2 linked regions of the Homo sapiens genome follow. The main gene of each other region encodes a partner of the protein of the gene in region 2 in a complex. Each region holds a gene or a part of one and is shown on either strand. Other genes may lie near its edges. The genes, in order: RHOG and DOCK5.

Region 1 (15,445 bases), on a different chromosome or scaffold from region 2:
TGCAGTGAGCAGAGATCGTGCCACAGCACTCCAGCCTGGGTGACTCTGTCTCAAAAAAAAAAAAGAAATAATGAAGAGGAAACTGTGTTCTACTCCTGAGGCTGGCTGAGAGAGGGAAGACCAAAGGATCAAGAGGAGCCCCAAGAAGGCTGAGTCCCCTGGAGCCACAGCAGAGGCAAAAGAGAATTCAGATTTAAGGGTAACCTAAAGGGGCTGGGACTGGGGCTAAGCCAAGACCCCTGTGGATCACTGGTGAGCTCCTGGAGCTGGAGTTCAGTGAGGAATAGGCTGGGAAGACCCCTTTGGAATCCTCAGGGCACTGGTGAGATCAGTTCAGGGCCTTTCTCCTCTCACTCTCTGTCCCCTCCTCTCTCAGGGAAACTAGTCAGCTTTAGCATTTTGACATTGAGAGAGAGGGAAGAATTAACCAAGGGCGGGGGGATACCTGAAAACATCAAGGGAGTGTGGAGAAATTAACTAATGTTTATTTGCTGTACCCTAGGGCAATTTACGAGGGCTCCACATGCATTATGTCGTTTAATACTCACAATCTCATGCAGCACTTGCCAGTCCCATTTTATTGTTTTTTATTTGTTAGTTTTTAGAGACAGGATCTCACTCTGTCACCCAGACTGTAGTGCAGTGGCATGATCATAGCTCTCTGCAACCTCAAACACCTAGACTCAAGTGATCCTCCCACCTCAGCCTAGCAAGTAACTGGGACTACAGGCATGTGCCACTATGCCCAGCTAATTTTTGTGTGTGTATGCAGATGGGGTCTTGCTATGATTGCCTAGGCTGGTTACAAATTCCTGGGCTCAAGTGATTGTCCCACCTTGGCCTCTCAAAGTGCTAGGAATAGAGGCATGAGCCACCACGCCCAGCCATTCCCATTTTAAAATGAAACTAAGACTGAGAAGTTGGCTCTGTTATATGCTCTTACAGTATTCTGTACTTTTTTTTCTGGAGAAATGTTCTTGCTATGTTGCCCAGGCTGGTCTGAAACTCTTGGGCTCAAGCAATCTTCCTGCCTTATCCCCCTGAGGAACTAGAACTGGAGACAAACACCACCATGCCCAGCAGCACTCTACTTTTGTATGATTACCTGTTTAAGGTCTATCTCCCTTACCAGTTATATCAGGGCAGTTTTCTCTACTTCATGATTGGCATGTAACACTATGTCTGGCACCAAGAAGATTTTCAATAAATATACATTGAATATTTATGAATATGGGAGATCTCATATGACTAATCAAAGGCCATACTGTGTTACAACCATCCTAATCTGTCTCCAAAACCTGTCTGTGATCTCTATTCTACCCCACCAAGTGCTTTCATATTATCTCACTTCTAAATGTCCAGGTTCAATGTCCTTGTCTCTCAGCTGCTTGTAAGCATACATGCACACCACCTACCAAGAACTCACCTATTCAGGGAAAGCTAGTGAGAGAGTAGAAAAAAGAAACAGCCCATTTGGGATTGTGCCCTCTTCCTACCCTCTTCAAGTCAGCATTTCTCCTCCTTCAAGAAGCCTTTACGGACAGCTCCACCTGTCCACCTGCTTCCCTTTCCTCTGGCCCTTCCCATACCTGTGCCACAAAAGTGTTTCCAAGTTACCTGGAGTCTGATTGTTCTACACATATTAGTACTTTATTAAAGCAATTTAACATTATGGATGTTTAGTGAAGGCAAATGTGTGCTCAGGCCTGCCTCTGTCAGGCCCAGTGGGTGGACACAGAAATGAATCAGACGCAACCTCAAAGGACTTATAGTCAGTGGGGGAGACAGATATTAGGCACAGATGCAATTTACTAGAGCACAAAGCATGATGACCTAAATGGTATTAAAGAACTATGAGCAACATGCTATATGCATAAACCTTAATTATTATTCTGAAGAGTGTATCATAGAAGATGAGAGCTCAAAGGTATCATCTAGTTCAACCTCTGTTTTCCAGTGGAAGAGTTTGAGACAGAGAAGGGTGGGGCCTAGCCTAAAATCTCAATCTGTCTGTCTGAGCCAAGACAGACTTCAAGTTTGTTTGTGGTTTTTTTTTTTTTGTTTTTTGTTTTTTGAGATGGAGTCTCGCTCCGTCGCCAAGCTGAAGTGCAGTGGCGCGATTTCGGCTCACTGCAACCTCCGCCTCCTAGGTTCAAGTGATTCTCCTGCCTCAGCCTCCCGAGTAGCTGGGGTTACAGCCATGCACCATCACACCCAGCTAATTTTTGTATTTTTAGTAGAGACGGGGTTTCACCATGTTGGCCAGGATAGTCTCGATCTTCTGACCCCATGATCCGCCTGCCTCAGCCTCCCAAAGTGCTAAGATTACAGGCGTGAGCCATTGTGCCAGGCCAGACTTGAAGGTTTTCTAAAGCCCAGCCTTGGACTTTTTCCTCCTCTTCTGATAGCTTCATATGCAAAGTCCTATACTTCATCAGACCATGAGATCTTTGAGGCTGGATCAGGTTCTCCCTCCTAAACCAGGGCTAGGCAAGCCCAAGACACTTACAGGCTCAGGAAATGCAATCTGATCCCAGGCTGCCAATCCAGTCTTTCAATCTGCAGCACCTAATGTGCTCCCTACTCTTATCACTATGTCCTTAAATTGATTTTCAAATATTTTTTGCAGGAAACTTAAAAACAAAATTAAACTCTCTATGCAGAATACTAGTAAATAAATCAGATAAAAAGCAAACCTTCTCTGGTTGAAGGGGAGAGAGTCCATAGCTCCACTGTTTTTCCTGTTCTTAAGTCCTGGGAAGGGAATTCTAGGAACACATATCAGAAACATTTCTTCTGGAGCTGGATGTGGTGGTGTGTGCCTGTAGTCCTAGCTACTTGAAAGGCTGAGGTGGGAGGATGACTCGAGCCCAGGAGTTCCAGGACAGCCTAGGCAACATAGTGAGAGTCCCATCTAAAAAAAAACAACAAACAAACCAGAAAAAACTTTTGTGCTGGGACATAATCTTTAATGGCGTCATAGAAGCTGCTTTAGCGTATGGTGTTCCTCTGAACCCTGTCATTTCTGGGGCTCACAATCCTTTCTTTATTCATGAAATACCAAGCACCCCAATGTCAAGTGGTCCCAATGGTGTATGGATGGGAATGAGAATTTCCCCTTGTGCCTCCTGCTCTCATGTCCTCCACAAAGAGGAGTTTGTCTGAAGGGCTACAGGGACCAGACCGAAGAGGAGACAAGAGACCCAAACACTGCCTGGCAGGTCAGGGGAGGCTTCTAGAGAAGGATCTTTGAGAAAGACTTCATCCACACAGTCATTCACCAGCCTGAATCTGATAAAGCCTCTGTTTTTGAGGATGATACAGTAGCCACCAGCTACACATGCTATTGACCACTTGAAATGTTTCCAGCCAAATTGAGACAAATTGTAAGTATAAAATACACACCGCATTTCAAAGACTTGGTACAAGAAAAGAATGCAAAATATCCAGTTAATTTTTATAACCAGTAATTTTTATGTTGATTACCATGCTAAAAGATAATATTTTGAGGCCGGGCGCAGTGGCTCATGCCTGTAATCCCAGCACTTTGGGAGGTTGAGGCGGGCAGATCACGAGGTGAGGAGTTCAAGACCAGCCTGGCCAACATGGTGAAATCCTATCTCCATTAAAAATACAAATATAAGCCAGGCATGGTGGCACGTGCCTGTAATCCCAGCTACTTGGGAGACTGAGGCAGGAGAATCATTTGAACCCAGGAGGCGGAGGTTGCAGTGAGCAGAGACCGCGCCACTGCAGTCCAGCCTGGTGACAGAGCGAGACTCCATCTCCAAAAAAAAAAAAAAAAAAAAAAAAAAGATAATACTTTGGCTATGGCTAAGTCAAATATAGTTAAAATTCATTTCGTTTCTTTTTACTTTTTTTGAAATGTCATTAATAGACAGTTTTAAATTACTTACGTGGTTCCTATTTATTTTTTTAAAAATATAAGTAGGCTGGGTGTGGTGGCTGACGCCTGTAATCTCAGCACTTTGGGAGGCCAAGGCAGGTGGATCAACTGAGATCAGTAGTTCGAGACCAGCGTGGCCAACAGGGTGAAACCCCGTCCCTACTAGAAATACGAAAATTAGCCGGGTGTGGTGACATGCACCTGTAACCCCAGCTACTCGAGAGACTGAGGCAGGATAACTGCATGAACCTGGGAGGCAGAGATTGCAGTGAGCCGAGATCGTGCCACTGCACCCCAGCCTGGGTGACATCGTGAGACTGTCAAAAAATATGTGTGTGTTTGTGTTTATAGAGACAAGGTTTCACCATCTCTGTAATTACAGGCAGACGCCACCGCGCCAGACTCTTAGGGTATGATATTTTTAAAAGATATTTGTTTAGTGTTTGAGATACGCATTGACAACAGGTCTTTTACACCCATTCTCATGTTATCTTCAAAACTACGGGGTGAAATATAATTATTCTATTTTACCAAAGACAGATTTGAGGCTCAGAAAGGTTAAGCTATTTATTCCTGGAATCAATCCGTTTATTTGAAAAGCTTCTGGAAGACAGGGATCCTGTCTTAAACGCTGTGTTTCTTCACAGCACCTAGCACTTAGCTCTCTCCACGTGGTAGGCGCTCAGAAACTTTGTGCTGAACGAAGGATATGGATTCTCAAGTCAAAGCTCCGAGCGCAAAGCCAGGGAGCGAAGCACCAGAGGGCGCCCATGAGCCCGCCCACCCGCGGGTCGCCGGGGCCCAAGCTGGACCTCAGGCCTGGGTGCGGCTCTTCAGCCCCAAGCAGCTGCGCGCCCCAGCAGAACAGGGGGCGAGGGGGCGAGGGAAGCCCCAAGTCCTCCGTCCGCCCCGCCCCCTCCCCAGAGCCAGGCCTCGCAGGGCTGCACGGTGCTGAATGACGACTCGACATCCTGTTTTTGGGGCCCGCGGCTCCGCCTGCGCCTCTGCTGATCTTGTCTTTCCCTTGGGTGCTGACGCCAGCTCCTCTTCCCCCCGAGTCTCCCCACCCTCCCCAGGGGTCTGGGGCCTTCCCACTGCTGAATCACCACCACCTCGCACTCCCCCGGGGCTCAGGGCAGGGGCGGGGACTGCCCCAGCCTCGGCCACCACTCTATCCCTGGGGTTGACTGAAGGGACCAGGCCCAGGGGCGCCTTTCTCAGCATCTTCCCGCGGAGGCTGGTGGGGGCGGGATGGGGGGAAGAGGACGAACGCCTAGCGCCCAGGGTAGGGCCTCCAGGGGTAGGGTGGCCAGGAGGAGGCGGAGAGACTTGACCTTGGGAGGCCTGACTTACTGACCGCAGGGGCAGCGGACTGGGAGGGGAACGTGGCAAGCCCGGGACTGGGCCGGGGGCGAGGCTGGGGGCGGGCCGGGGCTGGAGAGGGGGAGATCGGCCCTCGGACTTCCTGGTCGGGCCCCGCCCCGGCCCGCCCCGCCTCGCCGGCCCGCCCCCCCCACTTCCTCCGGCCTCCCGCTCTCACTTCCTTCTCGAGCCCGGAGCCGCTGCCGCCGCCCCCAGCTCCCCCGCCTCGGGGAGGGCACCAGGTGAGGCCCGGCCGGGGCTGGCGGGTAGGGGTCCGGGGGAGGAGAGCCCGGCCGGCCCAGGACTCGGCGCGGGCGCCGGCTCATGAGTTTGCTGGCGGAGGCCGCGGGCGGGAGCTTCTCGGTTCAGTCCAAGTAGGGCGGGCGCGGCCGGCCGGGCGGGGCGGGAACGGGGCCACTGCGAGCCGGCGGAGGCTCGGCGAGGGTGGCTTCCCGGCGGCTGTACCGCCTCTAGGGAGCCGAGAGGGACCCCTGAGGTCGGAGGGTCCCGGGCTCCAAGATAAGTGTCTCTGAAGTGGAAGAGCTCAGAGCTGGGAGATCGGACGCAGGTGGGGTGTCCTCAGAAGTTGGTGGGGGGGGTGTTGAGAAGTGCGTGAGGGGAGAGGGCTTCTGGGCTGGAAAAGGCGCTCCCTCTGCTCTGGCAGTTGTGACACTTGGGGTGAGAGGGGCGGTGTCTGGGGCCTCCGAAAGCTCTCTCCCTGTCAGATGGATGCTAATACAGACCCACACTCGGTCTGCAGCCCCAAGGCCCTCTGCACTCAGGAGGACCCGGGTTGGGTGGGGGAGCCCCGCCGACCCCAGTCGTTGTCTGTATGTCTGTTTTCCTGAGTCCCGACCTTACCTGGAGCCAAGCAGTAGGTATTTAGTGAGCAGACGCTGTTCCTAGCTGACCAGAGCCTGGCCTTGCTCTTTTGGGAGTAACTTGGTCTTGCCCTGTAACTGGAAGTGGAAGGACTCTCATTCAGAGGTACTGATAGTCCCTGACAAGTTTTTGTTGTGTCTTTTGGGGACAATTGAGAACCATCTCCTAGTGTTCCTCTTCATTCTTAGTCCCTGAATTATACACATGCTCCTGTCGTCTCCCTCCACACCTTCTTTAGTTTCTACCCACAAATCCGCCATCACTCTCTTCTCATCCCTTCCAGTCTCTTTTCCTCCAAACATACGGTCATACCTAGGCCTTGACCTGTCTTCACCTACCCTGCCCCATGTTCGTCTTGGTCCTCTGCAACCTGCCCCATCCCTTCCCTTCCCAGCTCTGGCACCCACACACATGCACCTCCTGGTTTCTTCCATCACCCCTCATTCCTTTTGAACCCTCAGCCTGTCACCCTCTCTGTATCCTTCCCTCCCACCCACTTATCTCCAGCTTTGGAATCAGTTGTTGAAGACTTAGTGAGTTCTAGAGTCTTTTCAAACCTCCCTAGCTTGGAGAGGCAGTCTGCAGCCTCCCAGTGATAGAGACGGATTAAAGAGCTGGAAAGCCTGTGTGTGTGTGTGTGTGTGTGTGTGTTTGCGTGTGTGTTCGCACGCGCGTGTCTGTGTATCTACATCTTCATCTCTTAGAGATGGATTAAAGAGATGGAAAGCCTGTGTGTGTGTGTGTGTGTGTGTGTGTGTGTGTGTGTGTTCGCGCGCGCGTGTCTGTGTGACTACATCTTTATCTCTTACAGACAAAATAACTGCCCTCAGCCTTGAGAGGGCCCAGAGCAAGGGAAGCCAGCAGAATGAAGGGAACCTGCAGTGAGTGAGGTTGTGGTTAGGCAGGAGGAAGCCGTTTGTAGCAGTCAGGGTAGGGTGACACAGGAATAAGACTTGTAAGAGAGGCCGTGGGAAATCAAAATCACCCCAACCCGTGGTGCTTGACCAAGAGGCCAGGCCTAGAAGCCGGAAGACAGCCTGAAGGTCCCTGACTCCATTACCTACTAGTTCCAGCATCACCTGGTGGAAAGAATGGGACCAGCTTGGGTGTGATGGAAATAAAGGGAGGAGGCAAATGCAGGATTCTGGAGGAAAGACTGCAGCTGGTCTAACTTCGGACTTAAGAAGCGGCGGAGGCAAAAGTGTCTGCTCCTTTCCTGCTACCTTCTGGGGCCTGCCTAGGCTGGGTACCCGCATGCCCTGATCTGCATCAGGGCCTTAGTGACCAGGAAGCCCTCTGGAGTTCTACTGACCCCTCTGCCTTCAGGCATCCTTAATACTCCCCATCTCACCTAGGACCCTATTCCTTCTCAGGAATTCCTCCCAAATTTAACTTCAGTCCATCCTGGCTATGGAGGCTCTTGTTTCCACTCTAGAGCTCCATCCTCAAGCTTTTGGGGTGCATCTGAGGATCTTGCTCCTGTCTACCTCCTCTAGTCATCTGTATTCATTTCTCTCCACTAGAAAAAAAGAGAAGTAGAGGGGAGTAAGTGCTACAGCTAAATTTAAGGGCTCTCCCTGTTCCCCATTCTGTCATCTTCCCATGTCACAGTCGTCCCTCTCCCATGAATTGTTCTTCTTCCAGTCCTGCCCTTCCAACCACTTGTCTCTCTTCCCATTTCTTGGAGGTACAGAAGTTTGGGTCCGGGAAGAAATCCCAGGGACCTACATAAGAGCCCAGGTTAGAGAAGGATGTGCATACAAGGCACTTTCCCAGCATCACAGCTTAATAAAAACCCCAGGAGTCCCAGTTCCTAGGCTGGCAAACCAGTAGTTACTTTAGTATTCTGCGTAACTGAGCAAACCCACAGGGCTCTGATGGTAAAGACAAGATGGGTGAGACAGGGATTCTCCCAGGTGAGATCTGGCCCCATTGGAAGTTTGAGCTAATTGCAAAAAAGGCATCATTGGAAAAAATGTGACCAGGGCGGGAGAGATTTTAATGGGAAAATATTGGGGGGTAAAGGGAGGTGGTGGCTACAACCTAGGAGGCTGCCGCTGAAGTCTTGGCTAAACAGGTATGGTCAAGGTTGTGACATGAAGAAGGGGGCTCAGGCCCACACTGAAGACTCCTTCTATATACTGTAGACCCATTAGTGGTGAGGTCAGTAGGGGTCCGTGACAAGAGCTGAGGAGGGAAACCAAAGACAAAGCCTGGGCCACCTCCCCAGATCAGACTGGTTTTCCTGTCCAGGGTCCAGCTTCCTCTTTTGTCCTCATCTCATATGGGGGGAGGGCATCTCTCCAGGAGCTAGAGGCCAGAGGAGGAGCTTCTCAGCTAGGGCAGGGCCAGAGTGGCTGGCTATTGAGTAATGTCAGTGCTAAATCATGAATGCACCAGGATGGGCTAGGCATGAGAGCCTGGGAACTTGGAAGCAAAAAGGCTCAGATGTAAGTCAACCCACCCTTTGGCCCATTTTCTGAAGGAATAAACCATGGTAGCGTTCTCCTGAATGAGGTTAAAGAGATGGCCCATTCTCAGGCCAGAGTTAGAATCCTCACCTTCTCTCCTTTGTAGAAGTAGCATAAGGGTGGAGGCTAGAAGATCCGGATCCTTGTCGTAGATTTGCTACCTGGTCAACTTGGTTTCTCTTGGCTCTATTTTAGCATTAAGGAGTTGCATATCAGTACCTCCAAAGGCAACAGTGAACATCATGGCTCTGACTCTTCCTCCCCCAAGAGACTGCTCATAGCAGTGCCCCTCACTCTGGGCCCTTGTGTCTTACCAGCCTCAATTTGACAGGTCCGAGTAGTCTGTACATACATATCTGTCCAGGGATAGTACTGCCCTTTCCCCAAGCACAAGGACTGTTAGAGCTTGAGAGATAAGAAGGCAGAGAATGTTGGGGATTTTGCCAGGGGGTAGTAAGATGGGGGAGTACCCTGTCTCCTACTCCAGCTCTGCCTCACTGACAGTGGAAAATAGATGCCGGAGTTTCCTCCCTGGTGTTATTTTCCCTTGTGGAAACCCCCTCAGGCCTCGGGCGGGGCTAAAGGGACTGGGCAGCCCTGGGTCTCTCTGTGGGTATTTTCAGGTGGGGGTGCCAGGATTTGCAGGATGGCACTTCTGTACAGCCTCATGTGAAATTAGCAAAGGCAAAGGAAGTGCCACTTCACAGGCCTTTGGTGGGGCCCAGGGACTGCTGAGCTGCTGCTAGGCGGGGAGGAGGAAGCCAGTGTGCACCCTTCCTCTGTGCTGCGTGGGGGAGGGGGCAGCTTCCTTGGCTCCCCCAGCCAGAGCTGTCCTGGTCCTGAGGCTCAGCTTTTTTTTTTTTTTTTTTTTTTTTTTTTTGAGATGGAGTCTTGCTCTGTCACCCAGGCTGGAGTGCAATGGCGCGATCTCAGCTCACCACAACCTCCACCTCCCGGGTTCAAGCCATTCTCCTGTGTCAGCCTCCCAGGTAGCGGGGACTACCGGCATGCACCACCAGGCCCAGCTAATTTTTTTTGTATTTTTTAGTAGAGATGGGGTTTCACCATGCTGGCCAGGCTGGTCTCGAATTCCTGACCTCAAGTGATCTGCCAGCCTCAGCCTCCCAAAGTGCTGGGATTACAGATGTGAGCCACCATGCCCAGCTGAGGCTCACCTTTTATGGAACACTTAGGGTGCTGGGACAGTGAGGGAAGAAGGTTGGGAACTAGGACTTAGTGAAAGGGTCCTAGACTGCCCCCAGCCTTCCCAGCTACCACTGTCTCGTTTCCTAGTGGGTGGCATCAACTCTTCTCTTTTCCTACCTGCTGCTGCAATGTAGGATCCTCTCCAAAGGCTGAAGGATGAATGACAAGAGGTGGAGAGTCCTCCAGCATGGATTTTTTCTTTCTTTTTTTTTTTTTTTTGGAGATGGAGTCTTGCTCTGTGGCCCAGGCTGGAATGCAGTAGCATGATCTCTGCTCACTGCAACCTCTGCCTCCTGGGTTCAAGTGATTGTCCTCCCTCAGCCTCCTGAGTAGCTGGGATTACAGGCGTAATCCCACCACTACGCCCAGCTAATTTTTGTATTTTTAGTAGAGACGGGGTTTCACCATGTTGGCCAGGCTGGTTTCGAACTCCTGATCTCAAGTGGTCTGCCTGCCTTGGCCTCCCAAAGTGCTGGGATTACAGACGTGAGCCACGGCACCCGGGGGATTTTTTTTTTTTTTTTAAGGCTAGGAACTGGGCTCTCTTGGGTTCTTCCCTGCTGATGGGGAGAAAGGGAAGAAAGAGACTCAGCCCTTGGCCTGGTCCCAGTCCCACACTGACCTCATGTCTCCCCCAGCTTCCTCCTCCCAGCCCAGCTGCAGCCAGCTGCAGCCCCTTTGAGCCTCTTTATATCACCTCTCCTCTATTCCTCCCTTCAAAACAAACAAACAAACAAACTTGTAGAGCTTTGGAAGTGTTTCCAACAGTGCCCCTGTCCCTTGCCATGTCTTTGACCAAGGGTCCTCGGATATTCCCAGTCTGTAGCCTGTCGGGACCACTTTTCCTTCCCATCTTCCTCATCATCTCTGAGCTAGATCTGCCAGCTTCACCTCTCACCCTTCCAGTTGAAGACAAGACAGTATAGCTTATGTGTTTATTACCCCAACTTTGGGCTCTTCAGGGTGAATGAGAAAGAAGTTGGTTACTTATGTCTTGTGTCTTCTGGTCCTAGAGGTTCTTCCTTGTTCCCAGCATCAGAGTCTGTGGATTGATGGGGGAGGAGGGGTATGTCATTCTACAGCTTTTGCTCAGCCCTTCCCTGGGCTTCTGGAAATAAACAGAAGGTCAGACTACCCTCCCCCTGAAGCATCCAGTTAGTTCAGCACAATGAAAAGTACGGTCAATGCTGGGAAAGGTAAGGCAGAAGAGGGGGTTGCTGTGATGTCCTGGAGAAGCTGGGGAACAGTACTGGGCCTGAAGGACAGGAAGGATCTGAAGGGGGGTGAGTCGCATTCCAGGAAGAGGAACTCCCATATGCAAAGACATGATTGCATCGACTTCATTCAGTCATTTACTGACAGCTACTACATGGTGTGCTCAGCTTAGGGTGCTCAGCAAGGTCCAGTCAACCAGGACCTTGCCCTCTAGACACTCCCATTCTAATAACAAGAGATAAGATTCACATCAGCCTCTCCAAGCCTGTGAGAGAGACAGGGACCAGACTTTGGATAGGATAAGTCACTTCTGACTTGGATAATTTACGCTTTCCTGGAAGAGGCAGCAATGGTGCATGGTTCCATATTACTACTTGGTGTATTTTACGGAAGAGAATATGGAGGCCCCTTTGTAGAGGATCAGGATTGGAATGGCCAGAGATGGATTGTAGTTATAATGAGGTTCAGGGAGGGCTGCAGAAAGGGAGCCCCATGTTAGGGAGGCAGGTTATAGAAGGCTGAGGTAAGTTCCCATCACCTCCATACTCGCCTATCTTTTAAGAGTCCGTTCCTCCCCTCCCCCACTCCCAGTTGGGACACTTCCCCTGCTGTAACAGCCACAGAGATCTGGCAATCAGGCTGCTTCCTTTCCCTCCCCCATTCTGGGCCTGCCTGGGCCACACCCCAAGGCCAGGCCCCACTGGGTACAAGCCGGGCTCCAGGGACCACATTCAGATAGGGTTAGACCCCCATGGGCTATACTTCCTGCCGGAGCCAGGTCAGCCTGGTACTGGGAAGAGAGATTTTTGCCTATTTCAGGCATAGCTTTTGCCTGTCATTGCTGTCCGATGAGATTCAGCATTGCAGTCTTGTCTGTTGGGGGGTGGGCAGGGAGTGTCCGATACTGGGCTTCAGAGAAGTCTCTCCATATCTCAGTGATGAGGGCTGGTACAAGCAGATCAAAAGGCAATGGTTGTACAGTCCTGTGTGCCTAGCCCTATACTTAGAGGTTTTTTTTTGTCATTTAGTCCAGAGAAGCCAAGGCTTCAGTACTGAAGGGCATGTACAGCTGGGAAACTTACGTATGACTGTTGGAAAAGGAGAATCACACAGAGCCAAAGCAGGGTTAAAAGGGGTGGCCATGGGTGCAGTGGCTTACTCCTGTAATCCCAGCACTTTCAGAGGCCAAGGCAGGTGGATCACTTGAGGCCAGGTGTTCAAGACCAGCCTGGCCAACATGATGAAATCCTGTCTCTACTAAAAATACAAAAATTAGCTGGGCATGATGGCACATGCATGTAATCCCAATAACTCAGGAGGCTGAGGCAGGAGAATCACTTGAACCCGGGAGGTGGAGATTGCAGTGAGCTGAGATCGCGACACTGCACTCTAACCTGGGCGACAGGTAGCCATGCAATGGATATCCAAAGAAGAATTCAGTAACCTTATGCAACTGTGAGACTTAAGTTAGGCCTTAAGGAGTAAGGAAGATTAGAGAAGGGAGAGGGAATGGCAGCAGAGGGAAAAACAAAGAGTAAAAGTTCAGAGGCAAGAATGATCCTGGCTTGTTTGCAGAGGACATTGAAAATCCCTCTGGAACAGGGAGCTGGGAACTCACACTTGCAAAGTACCTACATTGTGCACATATTATACATTAATGCACTTAGTCCTTATAACAGTGCTATGTGGTAGGTACTGTACGTTGCCACTGCATTTGAAAGATAAGGAAATTGAAGCTTAGAGAGGCAAATCATCAGAAGCTCAGGGTCACACAGCTGGTAAGAGGCAGAACTAGGATTCAAACCCAAGTCTACGTAACTCTAATATCCCTTATCAAATTGTGAAGAACTCTGAATGCCAGTATGAGGGACCAGGCATGATCTGAATTGGGACTAAAAAGCCAGAATAAGTCATTGTAATTTGTCTAATAACATACAGATCTGGCCAGGCATGGTGGCCCACGCCCATAATCCCAGCACTTTGGGAGGGCTAGTCAGGAGGATCACTTGAGACCAGGAGTTCAAGACCAGCCTGGGCAACATGGCAAGACCCTGTCTCTACAAACAAACAAAAAGATGCATTAAAAATACAAAAATTAGCCAGGTGTGGTGGTGCCTGCCTGTAGTCCCAGCTACTCAGGAGGCTGAGGTAGGATGCCTTGAGCCTGGGAGGTTGAGACTACAGTGAGCTGTGATGGCACCACTGCATTTCAGCCTGGGCAACAGAACAAGACCTTGCTCCAAAAGAAAAAACAAAACAAAACAGATTGGCAACCATTGATTTACTAAATAACTTTTTTTTTTTTTGAGACATGGGGTCTTGCTGTGTTGCTCAGGCTGGAGTGCAGTGGCTACTCACAGGGACGATAACCTTGACTAGTGTACACACTACAACCCTTCACTCCTGGGCCCAGCCTCCCTAGTAGCTGGGACTGCAGGTGCACCACTGAGCTGGGCTTAATGATTCTTTTGAAAAAGCCACTTAGTGAATAAGTCATTGTTGAACCCCGCTCCAGATAGGTCACACTCCTGGTTTGGTGTCCTGCAGCACTGACATCCCTTCTTCCTGTTTGGCACAGTTTAGACTCTATATGCCCTCCTGAAATGGGCTATGGTAACTTATTCAACCCAGTTCAGGCCAGAGGATTTCAGAAAGAAGAGTTGTTTTGGGAGAGAGGATAAAGGTCTGAACTAGACCTGAGTAGGGAGGACTGGGCTGATCCCCTACCACAGATACAGGCATACTCAGTGCTTCCTGCCTTCTGGGATGAAAGGCTTTGCTCCTGTCACCTCCTGTGTGTACAGCACTTCAGTTTACAAAGTGTATTCATTCCCATGGTCAGGTTCCTTGATGCTGCCCTTGAGGCTGGGAGGGGTACTATTATTACTTCTACTGTACAGATAAAGAAACAGAGGCTCCAGGAAGGGCAGTAACTTACCTGATCAAGGTCACACAGTTAGCTGGTAAGGGGTAACTTGAAGACTGTATGATGCACCAAGGAAAACACAGGACTTTGGGTCACAAAACTGGGTTTGTGTTCTGGCTCCCACACTAACTAGCTGTGTGATGTTGAGTTACTTTTACTGTTCTGAATTTGTTTCCTCATCTGTAGAATAGGCATAGTACTAACAGGTTGTTATAAAGGTCAAATGACATAATAACATGTGACCTATAAAGGCTTATACCATATGAGGGCTTTTTTATCAAGGGTCAAGGTCGGCAGATAAACTCAAGACATCAGAGTCAGGTATCCAGTACTCTTGGCCCTATACCACACTGCCTTTGCTCTGCTTGTTTCTGGACACTACCATACTCATCATCCTTTTCCAGTGTCGGTCCTCGTTCCCTTCCCAGCCCGGAAGCTACGCTGTCCTTCCCCTCTCCTTTGAGAGCTGATTTACTGATTGCTAGTTGATAACCACCTCTTTAGAGAGCTGTACTTCCAGTCTCTTGGGCCTTGTGACAGCCAGCCGGAGTTCCCTCCTTGCCTTCCTGCCTGGGCCAGCCCAGTGCTGGGCTTTTCAGTCATACTGTCAACACCCACTCTCCTGCTCTGTGTGGAACTGAAGATTACAGGCCCAGGAGTTCTGCTTTGAATGTCAAGGCTTCCCACGTAATCCGCTGGGCACAAATAATGCCCCCTGCCTCCAAGGAGCTTTAAGTCTTAGTTCATCCACCTAGTGCTCTTGTAACAACCATTTTAATCTCTAATTCCTGGATAGGAAAACTGAGGCCCAGCAAGCGTAAATGCCTCATGCTTGGTTATAGTGAGTCAGCAGAGCTGGGGTTAGAACTTAGGTCTCTCAACTTCCAGTCTGAGGTCTCTATTTGACTCTCCACTGGCCTAGAGGGTCCTTATGCCCTTCCCTGACCCACTGTCTGAGGGTCTCTATCTGAATGTCCTGACGTTGCATGCACACGTGCACGCGCACAAACACACACACACACTCTCTCTCATTCATGCAAATAGGATGGAAATATTTTTTAATGTGAACCAGAGACACAACTTCATAGAGTGAAACCATTCCTCTCCCAGCTGATTCCAAGGCAAACTGTAGCCTGGGAGGGAGGTGGGACCAAGCCCTGGGTCCTTTGCAGCCCCCACATGACGAAAGTTTCTTTTCCACTTCCCAGTGGGGATTTTCTTCCCCACTTGTCATTGATTTTTGAAGCTTCTGAACCAGTGGTGAGAGCCCAGGCTGGGGGGGTAAGGGGTTCCCAGACCAGGGTGCAGCCTTGCAGTATAGCAAGTGAAATGGAGAAAATGGGCTAGTGTTGATGGTGCTTGGGTGGAGCCAGGGATAAGGAATACTCAGGGATTTGGTTGTGTTTAAAACAGGGCTGCCCCCTCTCAGGGAGCAGGCCCTGGTTGTGGGAGACAGTCAGGGAAAGGAAGTCACAT
Region 2 (15,445 bases):
TTGGCAGAAGAAAATGACTGCAATTCTGGAATCAGAGGGTTAAGGTGGAGGAGGAGGAAGCAACTCATGGCCCAGCAGTCTTCTTTAGGGTTTCATTTTCATCTGGTACCACTCCCTTTCCAATCCTACAGCACACCAGAGTGAACTGTCTTTGTATACTGGGGCTGTTTCCATTGAACACACTCAACCACTACATCCCAAGGGGCTAGTACCATGACTGGCATTCCATAAGAACTTGATATATGTTGAATAAAACAATCCTTTAAAAAAAATCTTAAAGCAAGACAAGTCACTAGAACAAAGAAAGAGAGGAAATAAAGATTTAAAAACACCTCCAACCGTATACCAGTATTCACAAAAGTTGTGACAATTTTAGGGATAATTTCAATGTCTTTCAATACTCCAGAGAGTTCTTAGCAAGAAAAATAAAGACCAATTCTTTCTCTTTTTTCCTCCTTGCTCCTTATCTCTTTATATTTAATGGAATCATGAGGTGTTTCTTTGCAGTCATCCTCTGACTTCAGGACACATTATTTATGAATTCTGTCAAATGTGACTCTTCCTACCCAACACCTTCCCTAAAAAATGAACCTTCCATCGTCCGCTGTAATCTCTTAGCCACAATACTACCTGGAATCCCTTTTGTTCAGGCAGGAGAGAGCTATTATTTCCATTAAGGTGGAAAGGGAATCATACGGAATATATTCTATTAAAAAGAGAAGGTATCCAGACAGTGATGTATCCTATCTTCCCAGCCTCTGCTCAAAGACCAGGCTGTGGGACTCATTTCTACTGCTCTGGAAGGATAGCCTTGAGGTTTGGTTTTTTTGGTGACCCAGTTTTATATCTTTCTATTTTAATGGCAGCCCGGCAAGTAGAGTGTGGCACACAAATCCCCTCTAGCCGGTCTGCTGGGTGACTTCTCAGAAGTCGTGCCAGGCTCTAGGTAAGCCCCTACATATCCTGTCTGTTGCCTCCTCCTTTCTCTACAGCTTGAGTTCTCTCCATTTAAAATCCTCTTGAGTTCTTATTAAGTTTGTCTCTAGTCATAAATAATCATGTAAAAGACCTCAAAGGAAACCACCATTTGGAGAAGGGCTGTATGTGCAGAACTAACTTGCACTCACATTCCAAACTACCTTGGAAGAAAAAAAAAGTATGAGTAATGCTCTTAGAGAGTTCCAGTTCCTACTCAGGCCTAGCAGAGGAAAGCAGGGACCATCAGGTGAGTACCTCTTCTTTCCCATATTTCATCTCATTGAAACCTCACAACAACCGATGCAGGAGGCATTATCCCCATTCTGGAAGGTGAGAAAATGAAAACTCAGATAATTTCAAATAATTTTTGTGAGTTTGCAAAGTTAACAGATGTCATAACTGGGATTTGAAACCAAATGGGTTTAATTCCACCAAATGGGTTTAATTCCAAAGCCCATGATTCTTCCATGCTAGCACAATGCAGGTTTTCCTGGGTGGGGGTAAAGGATCACCTTTTCCACACCCCTTCCAGAATCTGCATACTCATTTCTTAAGTAACGCCCTGGACACATCTGAGAGCTTTTGCTTCCCTGACCCTCATGATGAACTGGTGTAGTTCTCTCCTGAAAGGGTGGCGGTGAAACAGGAAACACAGAGAATCAGGCAGGCAAATACCAGCTCTGGCAGCAGAAATGGAAATCTCTTTCTCTGTTCTCTTCACCTCCTTAGTGGAAAGGACTCTGGGCAAGGTTGTGGGAGAGACCACCAGCAAGTTTCCCCCAGTGCTGACCTCTGCCTTCACAGTCAAAAAGCTTTCTGCTTTGCCACAAATATCTAAGTAGCATAGAAATATCTGGGACATTTCAAATATTGTTCCAACCAGGGGTAAATATTAAAGAGTCTGTCAGAGTTGTCTTCTAGAGATTACCTAGGTATAGCCTAATTTAGCAAGCTGGGTTATTAGTAATAATCTGTAGCACAATTTTCTGTGTGTAGCCTCAATTTCCTTATTTACTAAATAAGGGGACTGGTTGGTTGATCTTTGAGGCTTCAAGTCCAAACGTCTAAAACTTCATGTGGCTATTTATGTATGTAATATTTGGTCACCTAAATCGCTCCATTTTTTCTTCTGAAAGGAGTACTACTAGTACCATTAGCAAGCAATCAAATTAATTCCACAATCAAGAGGAATAAATAATCAAAGAGAAATATTGCACTGTATTCTCCAGGATAAAATCAGGTAGCAGATGCGGCTGCTGAGTCACCCAAATGGGTTTTAGAAAAGAAACTGCTGAATCCAGACTGGTAAGTCCCTTGTAGCCAGTGATTTGCGCTCAGAGGAGGTAATAGGACAAAAAAAAAAAAAAAAAAAAAAAGCCGTATGTGCAAAAGGAAGAGCTTCAAAGAAGTCCGTAGGGAAGGAGTGACTGCGACGCAGTGAAGGCCATTAGTCAGGAGTGTGGTGGGAGAGGGAGAGGGCAGCTTTCCTGTGCCACAAGAAGATGGGAGTTGGGTGGACTCAAGAACTCAGGGCTGATGTTTGAGTCCATGCTCTTTCAATGATAGACACACATACCTGAAAGCAGCCAATCTCCATTAAAAATGTGTGTTCTTTTCCTCAAAGGAGATACAATAGACATCAGAAAGATATGATTATTTCAGCTACCAAAGTGTACTTGATATCCATCTCTTCCAAGATGCAATATGGGATGGGATCAGTGTGTCCACGTGAGAAAAGTACCTAAGTCTCAAGCACAGCTTTTCATAAGCAAAGCAAAAAATCCTTCCAAGGAGTAGATTACAGGGGTTGCTCCACCATCAATATGGAAGAACTTGTCCAGGCTTGTGCAGACCACCATGTCTCTGCCGTACAGGCTGACATTTAACAATGGTGAAGGCAATCTCTTCTTGGAAAAAATCAGAGGCTGTGACTGATTCTGGAATTCCATGTGGACTGGAAGGGAGGTGGCATGGCCTCAAAATTCTATCAAAGAGAAGCTTTTGGAAGAACATGACTGGTTTTGGGCTGGTAAACATCATCCCAGATCAGGAAATGCAGTCAGCAGGGAGCCCCATGGAATGAGGACACCGGCTGGAGGCCAGTTCTCAGGCAGCAGCTGTCTAAGGCACTCGGTGTTGCAGGGAGGGCAAGATCCTTACTGGGATCCAGGCTCGGAAGTAGGGATGCCAGACTTCCGAGCCTTTGGAGGTGGAGGGGGTGGTGCTTTGGCTTCTCTTCGGACAGGCAGTGGGGGAGCGAGCTGCAGAAGCAGAAACACAAAATTAGAAGCAGGTCTTAGCTTTCTTCCCAATTCTGCCTTCTCCTCCTATTTCTCATATTCTGCTTTAGCTTCTAATTGATCTGAGTTTATCTACACAGGCTTTGCAAAGTGAAATGGAAAACTACACTGACTTATCCTCCTTGTTTCCCATGAGCTAATCAGACACACGCGTGCGTGCGTGCGTGCGTGCGCGCGCGCGCACACACACACACACACACACACACACACACACATTTTCTCTCTCTCTCTCGCTGCCATATCCCCAACACTTGGGTTCCTGGCGTATAGACAGGAGGCACTTAAAAGTCATTTGTTAAATGACTGAAGGAAACCCATCTGAGGTCACTCCAGAATGACTGTCCTTTATTCAGAAGAAGTAAACTCTTCAAATGTGAAATAGAGGGCTGGGGGCAGGCAGTGGCTCACATCTGTAATCTCAGCACTTTGGAAGGCTGAGGTGGGTGGGGGGGATCACTTGAGGCCAGGAGTTTGAGATCAGCCTGGGCAATATGGAGAGACCCCATTTCAACAAAAGATTAAAAAATTAGCTGGGCATGGTGGCACATGCCTGTAGTCCCAGCTAATTGAGAGGCCAAGGTAGGAGAATCACTTGAGCCCAGGAGTTTGAGGCTGCAGTGAGCTATGATCGCACTATTGCACTCCAGCCTGGGTGACAGAGCCAGACCCTGCCCCCGCCCCCCTAAAAAGGTGAACTAGAACTCACGGCTTATTTCACAGGTACCCAGGACGAGGTACAGAGAACACCTGCCTCTACCTTCATCATCTGCTTGCATGTCTGTCCTTCCCATTGAAAACTTCTCTATCTCCTGTGGTTTCAGGAATGAGCCAAGAATCGACTGCAGTGACAGGTCTATGAGCAAACCTGCCCACTAAAGAGCCTGGAAAACCTGATGCTGCCTTCCCAGGAGTGGCGCTCCCTGGCCACAGTTGCCAGCTGTGATTTCCCTACCTCAGTGGAGTTCCTCTGGCTGCCTTCATAGGGCTTGCTTTTGGGGGGAGGTGGAGGTGGGACAGGAGTGGCCGCGATTCCATCTGTCTGCAACGATGGGGAGCCTAGAAATGACAGAAAGTGCAGGCGGCAGAGAGAGGCACTGAGCAAGGAAGCTCATGGAAATGTTGCTGGCACTGTAACACCTAAGCCAACCTGGTCAACCAACTGATGAAAGCCACATTCTATGGTTTCTGCGGATAGAACGAAGAAGACTTCTTACCCCACATCACACAGGTGACGCCCTCGCCAGAAGTTTCAAGAGCTCCACAAGGTGTTCTGAAGCAAAAACTTTATTTTTTTTATTTTTGTTTTTTTGAGATGGAGTCTCGCTCTGTTGCCCAGGCTGGAGTGCAGTGGCGCGATCTCAGCTCACTGCAAGCTCCGCCTCCCGGGTTCACGCCATTCTCCTGCCTCAGCCTCCCAGGTAGCTGGGACTACAGGCACCCACCATCACGCCCAGCTAATTTTTTGTATTTTTTAGTACAGATGGGGTTTCACTGTAGCCAGGATGATCTCGATCTCCTGACCTCGTGATTCACCTGCCTCGGCCTCCCAAAGTGCTGGGATTACAGGCGTGAGCTACCGTGCCTGGCCAAAACTTTTTTTGTTCAGGGTTTTAGTATTAAGCTGAAGATGACAACATTTTCTGGAATGTATGGTATTATTCTGTTCTCTGATATAGCCCAAGTGCTTAGGAAAATATCCACTTCCTCCAGGAAACTGTAACTGATTATCTCTAACTCTTGGTTGACAATTGTCTCCCATCTGGCTCGATAGATTTATCCCTCTACCATGCCTCTGGACTATGGGTACTTTGCAATTCTTCTCAAGTGTTGTGCACTGCTGGTTCCCCAAGCCAGACTATAAGCAGTAGATGGAATGGGTCTATTTCTTGTCCCTGTTCAGGTCTACCTAACTAATGGTTAGCTTGTAAGTTACTTGTTATCTGTCTAGTCCTAGTGCAGATCTGCCTCATTTATACCTTCACAATTATAAAACTGACACTAATGCCCTTTGGATCACTATCCAGAAAAGTTTAATGAGTCCTAGTGGCCTCCTTGCCAAACTCCAGTCTAACTGTATAATACACGAACACGAAATTGAACCAGTTTTACAATGGTCTTACATACATTCTGGCTGGTTTAGTTACAAACTGCCCAGATGCATAAACATACTCCATTCCCTAGTAAAAAGACTATAAGGAATACAGGAAAACTTACTTAGGGTCCTGGTGGCTTTGGGAGTGAGTGGAGGTGGGCTCAAGGGTGTTGACTGAGGAGGTGAAGAACCGTGAAATGGTGATAGCCGATTATCCATCAACTGGAGACTCTTTGGCCTTTGTGCTTTTCTGGTTGGGCTCTAGGACCAGAGAGAAAAAGCAAAACATTTTCACGGTGAGGAAGGCTGAGCTCAACAATGCTCTCAACAGCCTTGTCTTCTGAGAAGACACTTGGAAAAGGACTTAACTGAAGGAGCGATTTTTAAGCATTGTCATATGATGGGCAACACCGAACAGGCACTGACTAGAACCACTGAACCACAGATTATTTTCTGAATGGCCACAGACTTGATTCTTCTGATCACAGTTGGGCTGTGTCATTTATGTTGGAAATAAGCCACCCTGATTCTCAGGAAAAGGTGGTCTTGCCACATTTAACAACTTGATATGGAAGGAAAAGTACCTTTTAAAAAAATTAAAGAAGAGAAATGACAATGTTTGGATTGACTCAGGGGACAGAGTGGCAAGAACGACAGCTCTAAGCATCAACCCACATGTTTACATTGTGGGTACAAGATCTTCACCAATGTTGATTTATAGACTCGAACTTCTCATGAGGTATGTGCTTTCCTTACCACAATCTGCGACCTGACACTAACCCAGGCTGCTGAGTCCTGAAACAAGCCATAGCCCAGCTTCAATCTGGGAGGGGATGGTGATATGCCTGGGTACAGGGGAGAGGGGGGCAAGCCTCCAGAGATTTCTTTTTTTCTTTTCTGTTTTTTACCATCAAATCGGGTTCTGGTGCTTTCTCTGCAATGACCTGGGACTTGCTCAGACTCCAGTCTTTTCTCTTAAACTTGCTGATCCGGTTCTCGCTGTTCTCCTCTCTAAGGGACAGATCTTCAACTCTGGCACCTGACGAGGCCCTGCGCTCCAAAAGTGGCTCCAAGATTGAGCTATTGGCCAGGAACAAGGACAAACATCACAAATACTGATCACCTTGCAATCAAAATTCACTATGAAAGTACCAGCAGTTATGACTCTTTAGGCTATTTTTTTTTTTTTTTTTTTTTTGAGACAGGGTCTTTCTCCCATCATTCAGGCTGGAGTGCAGTGGTGCGATCACATCTCACTATAACCTTGACTTCTGAGTGGCTGGGACTACAGGTGTGTACCACCATGCCCAGCTAAAGTTTGTATTGTTTTAGTAGGGATGGGGTTTCACCATGTTGCCCAGGCTGGTCTCAAACTGTTGCCCAGGCTGTCTCAAACTCCTGGGCTCAAGTGATGCTCCTACCTCAGCCCTCCCAAAGTGCTAAGGCTAGAGGCGTGAGCCACCATGCCCGGCCTCCTCAACCTACTCTTGACCTATGACTTCACTCTCAGATTCTAAATCTAAATTTTCAATTACAACTGAACAAACATCTCAAGGTGTTAATGTACAGAAACAAGACCATCAGACGACTGGACGAAAATATTAGGGAGTATCTTATCCCAGGAAGTGAAGGGCTTAATTCAATGTACAGGCAAAGACAGAATCTTTAAAGTAAGAGATTCAATAGACAGTTTTATGTAGTGGGTAAGAGCACAACTCTGGAGCCAGATAGCCTGTGTTCAAATCCTACCCACAAACTACATACTACTAGAATGTAGTAATCTAGATTACTATATACTACTAGAATGTAATCTAGATTCTAGAAGTAATCTAGAATCTAGATTACTACATTCTAGAAATAATCCCACCACTTCTAAGAATGCATCCTAATAAGAAAGCTACATGTCCAAATATGTTTGCTATAGTTTTTAATAAAAATATATTTTATACTGATACAAGTTACATACATATTTTTGTATTAAAATCTATAATGAAGTTTTATGGTTAATTGTTTAGAAAGAAGGATACAGCTTAAATATTCTATAGTAGAAGAATAATTAATCATGGCATATTTGTATGATGCAATGTCAACTGCCATCAAAAATGATGGTAAAAGCTGATAGTAATAAAGATTACACAGCCAGGCACGGTGGCTCACGCCTGTAATCCCAGCACTTTGAGAGGCCGAGGTGGGCGGATCATGAGGTCAGGAGTTAGAGACCAGCCTGGCCAATACGGTGAAACCTCGTCTCTACTAAGAATATAAAACTTCACCAGGCGTGGTGGTGGGCGCCTGTAGTCCCAGCTACTCAAGAGGCTAAGGCAGGAGAATAGCTTGAACCCAGGAGGCAGAGGTTGCAGCGAGCCGAGATTGCACCACTGCACTCCAGCCTGGGCGACACAACGAGACTCTGTCTCAAAAAAAAATACATAAATAAAAATTACACAGCAACATGACAAATGCTTATAATAAAAAGGTAAGAAAGAACAGCAAAGTACCAAACTATATGCTATAATTGGAGCTATGTAAATATACCTATATCAACGGAAAAGAATGCATAATTTAAGAAACACTACATATTTGATTTCCAGGCAGGGTGGCATTCAGGTAGGTTATTTTTATGATGTAATTATTGTATTATGGAATTAAACATTTGTGAAAAAATGGTGAGTCAACTGATAACTTATATTCAAGACTATTTTAAATACTTAATGATGCATAAATGCTCATCACCTATATTAAATTAAGCAGTAGGTCACAACATGATAGATGCAATGCTTTTCCACTTGTATAAAAAATAAACAGGGCCAGGTGTGGTGGCTCACGCCTGTAATCCCAGCACTTTGGGAAGCTGAGGCGGGCGAATCACGAGGTCAGGAGATCGACACCATCCTGGCTAACATGGTGAAACCCCATCTCTACTAAAAGTACAAAAAATTAGTCGGGCATGGTGGCGGGCGCCTGTAGTCTCAGCTACTCGGGAGACTGAGGCAGGAGAATGGCGTGAACCCGGGAGGCGGAGCTTGCGGTGAGCCGAGATCGCACCACTGCACTCCAGCCTGGGTGACAGAGCCAGACTCCATCTCAAAGAAATAAAAATAAAAAATAAAAAATAAACATACTTTTTTGATATTATATACCTGAGCTTTAACGGTGGTTATCTTTGAGTGATGAAGTAATAAAGCATTGTTTTCTTTTAAACCTTTCCTGTATTTTAGCAATATATTATTTAAATATATTGCTAGGCAGAAAGAACACAACTATAACTCCTTTCAAATATTTTAAATTTGAACATATGGAAAGGCATTTTATGTTTCTGGCAAGGAAGCCTCAGCATCAAAAAGCCATCACTCTTCCTAAAGTTAGTCCATACATTTAACATGATCCTAATAAAAATAGCAATAGGATTCTAGACAAGTTAATCTAACAGTGAGCAATAGCGACACTAGCCAGATTAAATTCTGAAAAGGAATATTAGGAAATAAAAAATGTTTTATATCTATAATAATTAAGATTGCATAGTACTGATACATGAATAGACAGGTAAATCTAAGAAATAGAAAAAAAATGTCCACAGACTAAAGAGTATGTGGAAATTTGATTTTTTATAAGATTGACATTTCAAAAAAAACAAAAAGATGACTTGTTCACTAAATGTTATAAGAAGAATTGAGTAGCCATTTGGAAATAAAAATGTTGGCTCCATACTTAACATCTTATATTAGAATAAATTCTAAAGGATTACAGACAAAATTGTAAATAGTGAAACCCTAAAAGTCAATGAAAAAAAAAAAGTACCTTTTTTGTTATCTTAGAGTGGGAAAGGCCTTTAATTGTGAAATAAAACCCAGAAGTCATAAAATAAAAGATTGATTATATAACTACATAAAAAAATCAGCACAACTCAATAAAAAATTAGAAGCAACAAATTAGAAGTCAAAAGATAAAGGAGAAATTAGGAGAAAACATTTCAACTCATTTCACAGACAAAGGGCCAACAATTCAACAGAAAAAAGTATTTGACCACAGGTCACAGAAAATAAAACTACAAACAAATGAAAAGATGTTCAACTTCAGGCAAAACAAGAAAAATAAACAAAAACCAAAAAACAAACAAAAAGTATACAAGAAAATATTTTCCACCTATCAGATTGGTAAAATTTAAAAAGACTAAGAGTACAGTTTGGTGGCTAGGGTGAGTAACTAGGCACTCCTGTGTGTTGCTGGTGGGAGTGTAAACTGGTATAATCTTTATGGAAGTCGGTTTAGGAATAATTTTCAAAATTGCAAATATACATCTTTGACAGAGCAATTTCACATACGAGATTTTTCCCATATTGATATAGTTGTATATGTACAAAATAACATGTGTTTAAGGTTATTCATTGTCACACTGAAGTAACAGTAATAGAGTGAAAGCAACTGAATAACCACCAGTAAGCACTGGTAGAATATACAGGTTGAATATCCCCAATCCCAAAATCCAAAATCCAAAATGCTCCAAAATGTGAAATATTTGAATGCTGACATGACGCTCAAAGGAAATGCTTACTGGAACATTTCAGATTTGGGGTTTTTGGATTAGGGATGCTGAACAGGTATAACGCAAATATCCAAAAATACTAAAACATCCGAAATTCAAAACACTTCGGGCCCCAAGCATTTTGGATGAGGGATACTCAATCTGTATCATGCCACATACATACAATGAGCCATATCTATAGCTACAGAAAGCATAAAGAGGGGGCTTTTTATGTTCTGAAATGGAAAGAGTTTCAAGATATAATATTAAATGAAAAAAAGCAAAGTAAAGAAAATTCTACCATTCATATAAAAAAAGTGTGGGGAAGAACACATAATTACGCAATGCTTGTGAACCTATAAAGAGCTGCCATGGGGCTACCAAGAACCTGAATGTTAGCATCATCTGGCTCTAGGGGTGGGGCTACTGCAGGGCTTCTACTGTAGTGGGAAGTCTCAGATTAAAGGGAGATTTTTTGTGATATATCGTTTGGTTCTTTTGGAATTTCATGCCATGTGATTATAAAACCTATTCATAAAATAGATGTAAAAATTTATTTTTTAAAATGGAAATGATGAAAAAAATAGGTAATGACTATAGGTATGTAATAGTGTGGTAGGATTATGGGTGATTTCTTTGTCATTTTTCATTTTTAGTAACTGTTGTTATTATTCTGCTAATCATGACATTCCTCATGAGGAAGACAATGAGAATGACCCAAAGGCTATTTTTCTCAAAGGAGTGATGCGTGGCTAAAGGCAAACATTAGTAAGGCGTTACCCCACCCTTCCTGCAGATTAAAGATGAAACCCTTACCCATCAGATCCCGGTCTGGAAGGAGCATTGTCAGACGAGTTTGAAGAGGTGGAAACCACAGAGGAAGTGACTGAGGTGATGGACAACCTCCGCAGAGTGGAAGACATGATGTAGGGGAGCACAATAGACCCCGTGCGGCTTTGCTTCCTCTCCGTCAAGTTGGGTGGCTGAAAACATATGACTCCACATGGTTAGCGGACCTGGAATCCAGCCCCTATGAACTGGCCACAGCTGCCCTGTTTGCTTGTGGCTAACCAGTACCCATCTGTACTGGTTATGTGGCTGGCACCCCATTCTGATTGGTTGGTGCCTGTGCTGCCTCTATTGTTAAATATTGCATGTACTGATACTGTTAGCTATAGGTACAACTTAGGTTAAACCTCCCTGATGCTAAGACTAGAGAAAAAGTTGTCATAATTTTCTGCTACCTAAATGAGACAGGAAAAAATTAAGATGTGCCTCACACTCTCCAATAAATAGCAAAACCTTCCGTCTGCTTCCCCAGCTCAGCTGCTTTCAGTCTTTTAAAATATGGAATATTGGGGTTAGAGAAAATTGTTAGATTGACACTGTAGACATGCAGCTTAACCTGGTGAATCCTATGTTCTCTAGAAATGTCACCAGTAGGATTACCCCCAGATGCCACCATATGAAAATGACTCACTAATACCGGCCAAGTTCTAATAATGACTAAGCTCATTAAATCGAAGACAGTCTTTGCTGTCTAGGAATGTGTGTGCAAAAGACAAATGCTCCTAGAAAAACTCTTAAGTAGCAGCAGGTTAGGAGGCACAATCTTAGGAAGAAGGCACGACTGAACACTTAATGGCTGAAAGACACGCTCAAAAAGATACCCTGGAGGAAACTGTACTGAAGGTGGGCAGACAGGAATGGGGGAGAAAAGAGCATGAAAAGAAACTCAGAGCTTTGGTTTGAGGAAATAATGTGAAAATAAGGGGTTTAAGAATAAGACCATTAAAGGGCTGGGCATGCTGGTTCACACCTGTAATCCCAGCATTTTGGGAGGCTGAGGCAGGAGGATTGCTTGAGTCCAGGAGTTGGAGGCCAGCCTGGGCAACATAGGGAGACTCTATCTCTACAAAAAAGTTTTAAAAATTAGCTGGGTGTGGGCCGGGCGCGGTGGCTCACACCTGTAATCCCAGCACTTTGGGAGGCCGAGGCAGGCGGATCACAAGGTCAGGAGATTGAGACCATTCCGGCTAACATGGTGAAACCTCGTCTCTACTAAAAATGCAAAAAAATAGCTGGGCATGGTGGCGGGCACATGTAGTCCCAGCTACTCAGGAGGCTGAGGCAGGAGAATGGTGTGAACCTGGGAGGCAGAGCTTGCAGTGAGCTGAGATCGTGCCACTGCACTCCAGCCTGGGCGACAGAGCGAGACTCTGTCTCAAAAAACAAACAAAAAAAAATTAGCTGGGTGTGGTGGAGCACACCTGTAGTTCCAGCTACTCAGGAAGCTGAGGTGGGAGGATGGCTTGAGCCTGGGAAGTCAAGGCTGCAGTGAGCTGTGATCTCGCACTGCACTTCAGCCTGGGTGACAAAGAGAGATCCTGTCTCAAAAACAAAAACAAAACAAAACAAAAAGAATAAGACCATTAAAGAGAACAGGATGAATTCAAAGAAAAAAATGCAGATAAGTAGAGCTAGAACGTATTACACCATCACTCACTGGAGAGAAAAGGTTAGTACATACACGCACTATCCACTGAACTGCTCAGGAGGAGAAAAGAAAATTGTAGCTGTGAGGAGCTCGTCAAAAACAATTATGAAAGCAGCTACATGCATATGAAATGTAATTCACAATTCCTTCTTCCCTTCAAAGGCGTGAAAACTGTATACTTTTCATCAAAATAGATACTATTTCTAAGATTAGGAAAAAATGTAAGAATTTGGCCAGACAGCACAAGAATAACCAGTGTCTAGGATTCAGAAAACTTTGAGTTATTTTGGTTTGTTTGTTTGTTTGTTTTGAGATAGAGTCTCGCTCTGTCGCCCAGGCTGGAGTGCAATGGTGTGATCTCGGCTCAATGAAACCTCCGCCTCCTGGGTACAAGCAATTCTCTTGCCACAGCCTCCTGAATAGCCGGGACTACAGGTGCCTGACGCCATGCCCAGCTAATTTTTTGTATTTTTAGTAGAGATGGTGTTTCACCATGTTGGCCAGGCTGGTCTCGAACTCCTGACCACAAGTGATCAGCCCTCCTTGGCCTCCCAAAGTGCTGGGATTACAGCTGTGAGCCACTGCACCTGGCCTGATTTCTAGTACAGTGGTTCTCAAAGTGTTGTCCCCAGACCAGCAGCATCAATATCACCCGGGAACTTCTCAGAATTGCAACTACTTGGGCCCCACCCCCAGATCTATGGAATCATAAACTCCAGGGTTATGATGGCTCAGCCATCTGTATTTTCACAGGCGCTCTGGGAGGTTCTGATAGTTGTTCAAGTTGGAGAACCTCTGACCAGCACAAGGACTGCTCAAGGTCACCAAGAGGGGAACACACTCTCTCCCACCAGCCTCACTATTTCCATGCCATAGCTAAGTTATTACAACTCACTTGGCATCTGAAAAACGAATCAGTGTCATAAAAGGTCACAGAGCCTAGAAAAAGGTGTGAAGGCTACTTAGATCATGCTTACCAGTGTTATAACCCCATAGTGCTTTTCTACTTTCTCCTTGAGTTCCCGGAAGCAAGAAGACAACCGCTCATGCAGCGGCTTCAGCTGCTCTGTGAGTTTCTCCCCATGGATGCGGATCCCTTCTGTTAGCAGGGGCATCTGGAAAGAAGGGCAAAAAATGAGTGCAGTGTGCTTCAGGAAGAGGGATCGTTTTGATTTGGTTGGGGAAGGGAGGGATGGGGTGGAAAGGTAAACTGCTAGACATAGTGCTGGCCAATGGGAAGGCCACTTCTCAGTGTAGGACTTGTGGACTGGATGGACTTTGGTCAATGATGTGGGAAAATGTGCACACCAAGAATACAGGTTGGCCCTAAACTGGGGAAGGACTGTGGGATGAGGCAAATCTAACGGAGTCCTGGGGCACTTCCGTGGATGAGCAACTGATAGGTTTAAGTCTTAGACTGAATTTGGTAGTCATGTTTTCTACCACTGCCCACTGAAGTCTTGAGAGAAAAAAATGAGGCCAGCATCTCTCAGCTGGAAACACATGCCAGGAAACCAACAGATGAACTTTTCTTTTTTTTTTTTTTGAGATGGAGTCTCACTCTGTTGCCCAGGCTGGAGTGCTGTGGCGTGATCTCGGCTCACTGCAACCTCTGCCTCCTGAGTTCAAATGATTCTCCTGCCTCGGCCTCCTGAGTAGCTGGGATTACAAGCATGCACCACCATGCCTGGCTAATTTTGTAGTTTTAGTAGAGATGGGGTTTCACCATGTTGGCCAGGCTGGTCTGGAACTCCTGACCTCAGGTGATCCACCCACTTCAGCCTCCCAAAGTGCTGGGATTACAGGCATAAGCCACTGGGCCCGGCCCCAGCCGATGAACTTTGATCTCAGCTTTAAGAAGGCTCCGTCAACCCTGGGCAGTTTAACTGCCGGCCGAGCAAACAAATACATAGATAGGTGGTGCTTTCACAAGGGTTAAAAAAAGAAAGAAAAGTCACCCTGAGTGGGCTTGTAGACTTAAGCCCTGGAGAATAATGGGTGTCCCACACTGTGGCCTCCCTGGGAGTGTAGAGGAAAGCCGTCCTGTACCTGTAATGCTATTAGTCGCTTTAGCAGCTCAACCTTCTCCTGGTCTTCAGGATGCTCCTGCAAGTACTTTTCTGTAAAAAAAGCCTAAAAAAAAGCATATGCAAGTTTTAATTAGAACACATTCCTATCTGTGCAGGAAAGCCTGGAAGGGTGAAACATGTGTCCTGTGCGGAAGAACCAGATGTGTCTAACTAAAAATGCATCCCTTTCCTCAGACAGCTCTTATACTATGTTGGACAATGCAAAAAAGTGTGTGCTATTGTGTGGTCTTTCCTTAATTAGCAAATTCTTAGCAAAACTACATTCTTAACAGTCACCAGCCCACCACACACACACACTAATCAAATAATCATCATCAACAAAGCAAAACGTCATTCGTTAAAATAACTTTCCCAAAGAACAAAGCAAAGGCGAAATGGCAATATCTCAAGGCTAATCATTAAATTAAGTGCATAGATATTATAAGGGAAAGAGCAAAAAGTTAAAAAACAGAAGATGGAGGTGACAGTTTTTCTGCTCGTCCCGTGACATTGGCTATATCACGCTTTTTTCCTATATTAAGTGAAGGTTAATATTTGCACTTTCTTACTAGTCCCCTATCCCAAGTGCTATTTTAAAAAGAAAATGAGATGTAGATGTGAAGACATTTCAAATATATTAAATGCTGGTTGCCCTTATTATTATATATCAGCACCAGGCTCATCAGTAAACACTCATGACCCCCCAGCTAAGTCCCTGTAACAGGTAAATAAAACCCAAACTTAAATTCCAAACACAGGCCTTATATAGGGTACTGTTTTAAAGACAGAATTCATCAGGAAAGAGAAATAGAAGTTTGCAGCAAACGTTTCCAACAGACTCCAAAATTGGAGTGACATGTTTTCTTCCCAGACCTTAACATTCATTTCTGAAAGTGCTTTCGAAGACCAGCCTTCAGATTCCCCTTCGGTCTTCTGCTTTAATGCCTTGAGAGCCAAACCCCCCATTATATAAAACCAAGAGCTCCT

What was found.
Region 1: the proteins of DOCK5 (region 2) and RHOG are in contact, whole or in part, in a cryo-EM structure (PDB 8XM7), measured with the Homo sapiens proteins. Residues at the interface, in NP_079216.4 of Homo sapiens: Val232, Phe345, Asn393, His394, Lys395, Gly396, Trp400; in NP_001656.2 of Homo sapiens: Ala121, Pro123, Leu126, Arg127, Arg128, Lys130.

Annotation. Positions count from the first base shown.
Region 1 is NC_000011.10:3,830,960-3,846,404, reverse strand, and holds the start of RHOG (rho-related GTP-binding protein RhoG), read left to right. Parts: upstream 1-5,445; 5' UTR 5,446-5,511; exon of another isoform or gene 5,512-5,837; intron 5,838-8,129; exon of another isoform or gene 8,130-8,338; intron 8,339-8,712; exon of another isoform or gene 8,713-9,128; intron 9,129-15,445.
Region 2 is NC_000008.11:25,398,988-25,414,432, reverse strand, and holds part of DOCK5 (dedicator of cytokinesis protein 5), read right to left. Parts: intron 14,523-15,445; coding exon 14,439-14,522; intron 13,505-14,438; coding exon 13,367-13,504; intron 10,876-13,366; coding exon 10,709-10,875; intron 6,451-10,708; coding exon 6,279-6,450; intron 5,632-6,278; coding exon 5,493-5,631; intron 4,335-5,492; coding exon 4,231-4,334; intron 3,240-4,230; coding exon 3,135-3,239; 3' UTR 1-3,134. UniProt on the Homo sapiens protein: Guanine nucleotide exchange factor (GEF) for Rho and Rac. GEF proteins activate small GTPases by exchanging bound GDP for free GTP. Along with DOCK1, mediates CRK/CRKL regulation of epithelial and endothelial cell spreading and migration on type IV collagen.